Homo sapiens: one gene and its partner. The protein of the gene in region 1 purifies or fractionates together with the protein of each later gene. This does not show direct contact. Each region holds a gene or a part of one and is shown on either strand. Other genes may lie near its edges.

Evidence for each region.
Region 2: the proteins of FMO5 (region 1) and HERC1 purify together in Homo sapiens (affinity purification with mass spectrometry; 2 studies listed by BioGRID and IntAct, with this or other methods). This does not show direct contact.

The regions. Positions count from the first base shown.
Region 1 is NC_000001.11:147,190,771-147,194,604, reverse strand, and holds part of FMO5 (flavin-containing monooxygenase 5), read left to right. Parts: intron 1-3,834. UniProt on the Homo sapiens protein: Acts as a Baeyer-Villiger monooxygenase on a broad range of substrates. Catalyzes the insertion of an oxygen atom into a carbon-carbon bond adjacent to a carbonyl, which converts ketones to esters.
Region 2 is NC_000015.10:63,659,412-63,663,245, forward strand, and holds part of HERC1 (probable E3 ubiquitin-protein ligase HERC1), read right to left. Parts: intron 3,794-3,834; coding exon 3,573-3,793; intron 2,611-3,572; coding exon 2,342-2,610; intron 1,615-2,341; coding exon 1,562-1,614; intron 526-1,561; coding exon 325-525; intron 1-324. UniProt on the Homo sapiens protein: Involved in membrane trafficking via some guanine nucleotide exchange factor (GEF) activity and its ability to bind clathrin. Acts as a GEF for Arf and Rab, by exchanging bound GDP for free GTP.

The DNA of each region.
Region 1 (3,834 bases):
CAAGGCTAGGAAGAAACTGCATCAACTAACAAGCAAAATAACCAGCTAACATCATAATCACAGAACCAAATTCACACATAACAATATTAACTTTAAATGTAAATGGGCTAAATGCTCCAATTAAAATACACAGACTGGCAAATTGGATAAAGAGTCAAGACCCAACAGTGTGCTGTATTCAGGAAACCCATCTCATGTGCAGAGACACACATAGGCTCAAAATAAAGGGATGGAGGAAGATCTACCAAGCAAATCGAAAACAAAAAAAGGCAGGGGTTGCAATCCTAGTCTCTGATAAAACAGACTTTAAACCAGCAAAGATCTAAAGAGACAAAGAAGGCCATTAAATAATGGTAAAGGGATCAATTCAACAAGAAGACCTAACTATCCTAAATATATATGCACCCAATGCAGGAGCACCCAGATTCATAAAGCAAGTCCTTAGTGACCTACAAAGAGACTTAGACTCCCACGCAATAATAATGGGAGACTTTAACACCCCACTGTCAACATTAGACAGATCAACGAGACAGAAGGTTAACAAGGATACCCAGGAATTGAACTCAGCTCTGCACCAAGCAGACCTAATAGACATCTACAGAACTCTCCACCCCAAATCAACGGAATATACATTTTTTTCAGCACCACACCACACCTATTGCAAAATTGATCACATAGTTGGAAGTAAAGCACTCCTCAGCAAATGTAAAAGAACAGAAATTATAACAAACTGTCTCTCAGACCACAGTGCAATGAAACTAGAACTCAGGACTAAAAAACTCACTCAAAACCACTCAACTACATGGAAACTGAACAACCTGCTCCTGAATGACTACTGGGTACATAACGAAACGAAAGCAGAAATAAAGATGTTCTTTGAAACCAATGGGAACAAAGACACAACATACCAGAATCTCTGGAACACATTTAAAGCAGTGTGTAGAGGGAAATTTATAGCACTAAATGCCCACAAGAGAAAGCAGGAAAGATCCAAAATTGACACCCTAACATCACAATTAAAAGAACTAGAAAAGCAAGAGCAAACACATTCAAAAGCTAGAAGAAGGCAAGAAATAACTAAAATCAGAGCAGAACTGAAGGAAATTAAGTCACAAAAAACCCTTCAAAAAATTAATGAATCCAGGAGCTGGTTTTTTGAAAGGATCAACAAAATTGATAAACTGCTAGCAAGACTAATAAAGAAGAAAAGAGAAGAATCAAATAGATGCAGTAAAAATGATAAAGGGGATATCACCACCGATCCCACAGAAATACAAACTACCATCAGAGAATACTATAAACACCTCTACACAAATAAACTAGAAAATCTAGAAGAAACGGATAAATTCCTCAACACATACACCCTCCCAAGACTAAACCAGGAAGAAGCTGAATCTCTGAATAGACCAATAACAGGCTCTGAAATTGTGGCAATAATCAATAGCTTACCAACCAAAAAGAGTCCAGGACCAGATGGATTCACAGCCGAATTCTACCAGAGGTACAAAGAGGAGCTGGTACCATTCCTTCTGAAACTATTCCAATCAATAGAAAAAGAAGGAATCTTCCCTAACTCATTTTATGAGGCCAGCATCATCCTGATACCAAAGCCTGGCAGAGACACAACAAAAAAGAATTTTAGACCAATATCCTTGATGAACATTGATGCAAAAATCCTCAATAAAATACTGGCAAACTGAATCCAGCAGCTCATCAAAAAGCTTATCTGCCATGATCAAGTGGGCTTCATCCCTGGGATGCAAGGCTGGTTCAACATACACAAATCAATAAATGTAATCCAGCATATAAACAGAACCAATGACAAAAACCACATGATTATCTCAATAGATGCAGAAAAGGCCTTTGACAGAATTCAACAACACTTCATGCTAAAAACTCTCAATAAATTAGGTATCGATGGGATGTATCTGAAAATAATAAGAGCTACCTATGACAAACCCACAGCCAATATCATACTGAATGGGCAAAAACTGGAAGCATTCCCTTTGAAAACTGGCACAAGATAGGGATGCCCTCTCTCACCACTCCTATTCAACAGAGTGTTGGATATTCTGGCCAGGGCAATTAGGCAGGAGAAGGAAATAAAGGGTATTCGATTAGGAAAAGAGGAAGTCAAATTGTCCCTGTTTGCAGACGACATGATTGTATATCTAGAAAACCCCATTGTCTCAGCCCAAAATCTCCTTAAGCTGATGAGCAACTTCAGCAAAGTCTCAGGATACAAAATCAATGTACAAAAATCACAAGCAGTCTTATACACCAACAACAGACAAACAGAGAGCCAAATCATGAGTGAACTCCCATTCACAATTGCTTCAAAGAGAATAAAATACCTAGGAATCCAACTTACAAGGGATGTGAAGGACCTCTTCAAGGAGAAATACAAACCACTGCTCAATGAAATAAAAGAGGATACAAAGAAATGGAAGAACATTCCATGCTCATGGGTAGGAAGAATCAATATCGTGAAAATGGCCATACTGCCCAAGGTAATTTATAGATTAAATGCCATCCGCATCAAGTGACCAATGACTTTCTTCACAGAATTGGAAAAAACTATTTTAAAGTTCATATGGAACCAAAAAAGAGCCCGCATCACCAAGTCAATCCTAAGCCAAAAGAACAAAGCTGGAGGCATCACGCTACCTGACTTCAAACTATACTACAAGGCTACAGTAACCAAAACAGCATGGTACTGGTACCAAAAGGGAGATATAGATCAATGGAACAGGACAGAGCCCTCAGAAATAATGCCGCATGTCTACAACCATCTGATCTTTGACAAACCTGACAAAAACAAGAAATGGGGAAAGGATTCCCTATTTAATAAATGGTGCTGGGAAAACTGGCTAGCCATATGTAGAAAGCTGAAACTGGATCCCTTCCTTACACCTTATACAAAAATCAATTCAAGATGGACTAAAGAAACTACCATCAGAGTGAACAGGCAACCAAGAAAATGGGAAAAAATTTTCACAACCTACTCATCTGACAAAGGGCTAATATCCAGAATCTACAATGAACTCAAACAAGTTTATAAGAAAAAAACAAACAACCCCATCAAAAAGTGGGCAAAGGATATGAACAGACACTTCTCAAAAGAAGACATTTATGCAGCCAAAAAATACATGAAAAAATTCTCATCATCGCTGGCCATCAGAGAAATGCAAATCAAAACCACAATGGGATACCATCTCACACCAGTTAGAATGGCGATCATTAAAAAGTCAGGAAACAACAGGTGCTGGAGAGGATGTGGAGAAATAGGAACACTTTTACACTGTTGGTGGGACTGTAAACTAGTTCAACCATTGTGGAAGTCACTGTGGCGATTCCTCAGGAATCTAGAACTGGAAGTACCATTTGACCCAACCATCCCATTACTGGGTATATACCCAAAGGATTATAAATCATGCTGCTATAAAGACACATGCACACGTATGTTTATTGCGGCACTATTCACAATAGCAAAGTCTTGGAACCAAGCCAAATGTCCAACAACGATAGACTGGATTAAGAAAATGTGGCACATATACACCATGGAATATTATGCAGCCATAAAAAATGAAGAGTTCATGTCCTTTGTAGGGACATGGATTAAACTGGAAACCATCATTCTCAGCAAACTATCACAAGGAGAAAAAACCAAACACCGCATGTTCTCACTCATAGGTGGGAATTGAACAATCAGAACAGATGGACACAGGAAGGGGAACATCACACTCCAGGGACTGTTGTGGGGTGGGGGTAGTGGGGAGGGATAGCATTACGAGATATACCTAATGCTAAATGACGAGTTAATGGGTGCTGCAC
Region 2 (3,834 bases), on another chromosome or scaffold:
AGCTACTTTTCTTCATTTTTTTAATAGAAATGGGTCTCACCATGTTGCCCAGCCTGGTCTTGAACTGCTGGCCTCAAGCGACCTTCTTTCTTCAGCCTTCCAAAGTGCTGGGATTACGAGCATAAGCCACCAAGCCCAGCCAAAACTTAATACCACATTATACCTTCAAAATGTTAAAACAACTGGCTAAAGAGACTTGTTGGGGTGAGATAATGTTGAACCATTAGTCTTATTTACTTTTACTTTATTATTATTATTTACCTATCTAAGAAACAAATTATAGTAGATGCTATAAAATCAATGCAAATCAGGATTTCAGTTTACCTATTTGCATCAGAGTCTCTTCCATACTGTTGGTGGCTGTGACCATTGCTACTGATGCTCCCAGTGGATCGCTGTCAGGGAACTGAACTGGTTCTGGTACAATGCGCCGGTCATTTAAACCAAGCGGTCCAGCAAGTAATTCAAATTCTTCTTCACCAGTTAGCTTTTCATCTTCATCAACATCCAACATGTCCCAGTCTTCTGGAATTTAAATAAATAAATGTATAGTATGTGAATTTAAATATTACATAAATCTGCTGGCAATGGTTGTTCTGAAAATACATCTAAAATGCAGATGAGCAGCCAGATGCGATGGCTCACGCCTGTAATCCCAACACTCTGGGAGGCCGAGGCGACTGGATCACATGAGGTCAGGAATTTGAGACCAGCCTGGCCAACATGATGAAACCCCATCCCCACCAAAAAATACAAAAATTAGCCAGGCATGGTGGTGTGTGCCTGTAATCCCAGCTACTCAGGAGGCTGAGACCGGAGAATTGCTTGAACCTGGGAGGCCGTGGCTGCAGTAAGCTGAGATCACGCCACAGCACTACAGCCTGGACAACAGAGTGAGACTCCATCTCAAAGAAATAAAAACAATAAATAAATAAATAAATACATACATACATAAAATGCAGATGGACTGAAAGTCCAGTGACCACATAATGAACTATGGCACCATCTCCTGAAAACTTAACCAAACTGCACTCCTGAAGCATAAGTGAGACTCTCAGGGAAAGGGAGTCAATGTAGTTAAATAAGTTGACAGCAATAGCAAATGCTACAGCTGGTAATAGAGGTTTAAACTAATTAAAAATATTGTCATGGGTCCAACAAAGAGTTCTTAGCTGTCTGTAATCATTAGGGAATGAGTTATTTCAAGAAAATGAGTGCTCCAGAAAAATCAATGCTCATCTCTATTTATTTTTTACTTTCCACAATTAGGGTGGAAATTCAAAATATACCACATCCTTTCCCTACTTTGAAAAAAAAATACACCTAATAGAAATTAATATTCTGTGGTAAAGTTGGTCTTTGAAACCACGTTCTTTTCCTTTGACTTTTAAACCAGCGTTGTTGCTATTAAATTCCCTTGAGTTTTTAAGGGAAAATTTAAGTTAACATGTACACAAATACAAACACACACACACACGAAGGTGAATTTTAGTAACAGATGTTAAGCAGAGAGGATATATAAAAAAACATGTAAAATAAAGAAGCTCTCAAAACAAACTACCTTCATACACACTGTCTTGCTTGCCAATTAGATCTGGAGCTTGTCCCTTGTACCTGCACCAAACATGAAGAACATTGCATTTTTATATAAAACAGTTAGTACCCCAAGATGCAAATTAAGTCATTAGAACATTTTAAGAGGTCATTAATAAAGCAGCACAAAATAAAAAAGTATGTTTCATGTTATAGGCTAACATAATAAAAACTGCTGGTATGTAGGTACACACATGCTTACAAAATCAATGATTATTTTACCAAACTACTGGGGAGATTTCTGGGTTACCTAAAACAACTCTTTTAACCAAATTCTATTCCATAAAGCCTTAAAGATTTTAATAGTTGACAATTAAGGGCAACAAACCTACTCTCTAGGGATTAAGGATGTAAAGAGATAATATTTTTATGGAACTCGTTTAATCAAAAGTCTGTTTTTTTCATCAGGAAAAAGATCTTAATTAAAATGCCAGAAATATGGTAGAAAATACAAATGAAAAGAATTGAGTAGAAGCCTCCTGAGGGTTAAGGCAAGGGTCCTGACCATTACTTGCCAACAAGTCAGAGGTTAACACAGTCAAACTCCAGGGAAGGATATGTTGCTATGCCATTATTCCTGGGAACATGAATTTCTGAAACCCCTCCATCCCTTCTGCCCAAAGTGTAAGAATCACGGGATTTCAGGGAAGGTTAAATGTAACTCCTCACGTGAAAAATCTACAGTTCCCAAGACTTAAGGTATGAGGTATCTTCAGGAGGTCTGGATATCTACACAATTTCAAGGTACCTTTCAGAACTTGTTGACTTAGATTTGGTCTTCATGGCTAAGTACTTCTCCCTGCAGGTGCCACATAACAGGTAGTACGGATTTCCACTCCCACATTCACCGCCAAACCAGCCATCCACATAGGAACCATTGCTGCGATAGCCCTGGCGGTTTGCACTGCGCCCACAGCCTGGATGGTTTCTCTTCATGTGCTGATTGAAGCTGACGACGCTGCATTCACACAGTTCACACACCACCACTTCTTCCCTGTCTTCAGACTCACAAACATGCTGCACAAAAGGATTTCATACCAAATGATTAGTCAATTTAACATAAAACCAAGAAGTACCAAGTAGATTATTTATATTAAATTACTTTATTACATATGCTAGAATATTTCCAACATGTTCATTAATGCTAAATAAAAAATTTCTTTCAAATCAGAATTCAGATAACACAATCGGAAGGTGTTCTTTGCCCTCTCTCACTCTAATAAGTTATATCAATAATACAAGTAACTGAGTATCCTACTGAGAAGAGTTAATGAACATGACAATCTGTCCTATCTCAAAATGAGGCTTTTTAAAAAAAAAACTCCACTAGTGAAAAGAACTAATTTTCATCTGGTCACAAAATGCATACCTACTTTATGAATTTTTGGGAAAAATCATTATGATTCACTTATTTATATAGCAGATTCTCTTTCCTGTAGGACTTACATCTATGAGCTTTTTGGTCTCCCTACTACAAAAATGTAATGCTAACCAATGTATATACAAATCCACCATGTACCTTGCCCCTAAATGGAGGTATTTACAAGATCTAGGTGAGCACTGGTTCCTAGAATAAGGCATTACATTGATTAAATGGAACCTATGAAGGAGAAGAACATGCATTCAGATAGCAATGTGAGCACAGCAGCCATGTTATATAACCTGTCAACGTCTACTGGAACCTGATGCTTGTTTTGTAATTTATCTTTGACATCAGAATCAAATATTACCACAGTATGACTCTATTCATCTTGTCTGGGGAGAGAAACAATAAAATCCCACAGAGAAAGCAAGAGAGACTTTTCCTTATTAGTTTGTAGGTATCAAAGTAACCTCATAACTTTAAATCCCCAAACCTCAGGATGAGATAAAAGACTTTTTAGAGTGTTTCAACTCTAGGCAAGGCTGCTGTTAGTAAGCTATATGAACAGGAGGGCAGGAAAATAAGTCAGAGCAGCCCCCGCTGCAGTCACACACACCCAGGTAGGCCAATCCAGTACCTCTGGGATCCACATTCCCAGAATATCATTGTCACTGGTCAGGTCTTGTCCAAACATAGCTTCCATCGCCTCATCATCAAGATCAATTTCCAATTCCTCATCTAAATTAAAGTCATACAACGCCCCTGGGTCTTGCTGCAAAGATATTCCTTCTCTCCGACTTTGATTCCTGTGGGCCTGCACAGAGCGGTATAATCCCGCTCAGAACAAAACAAAAAAGGCATTTTATTTGCATGCATAA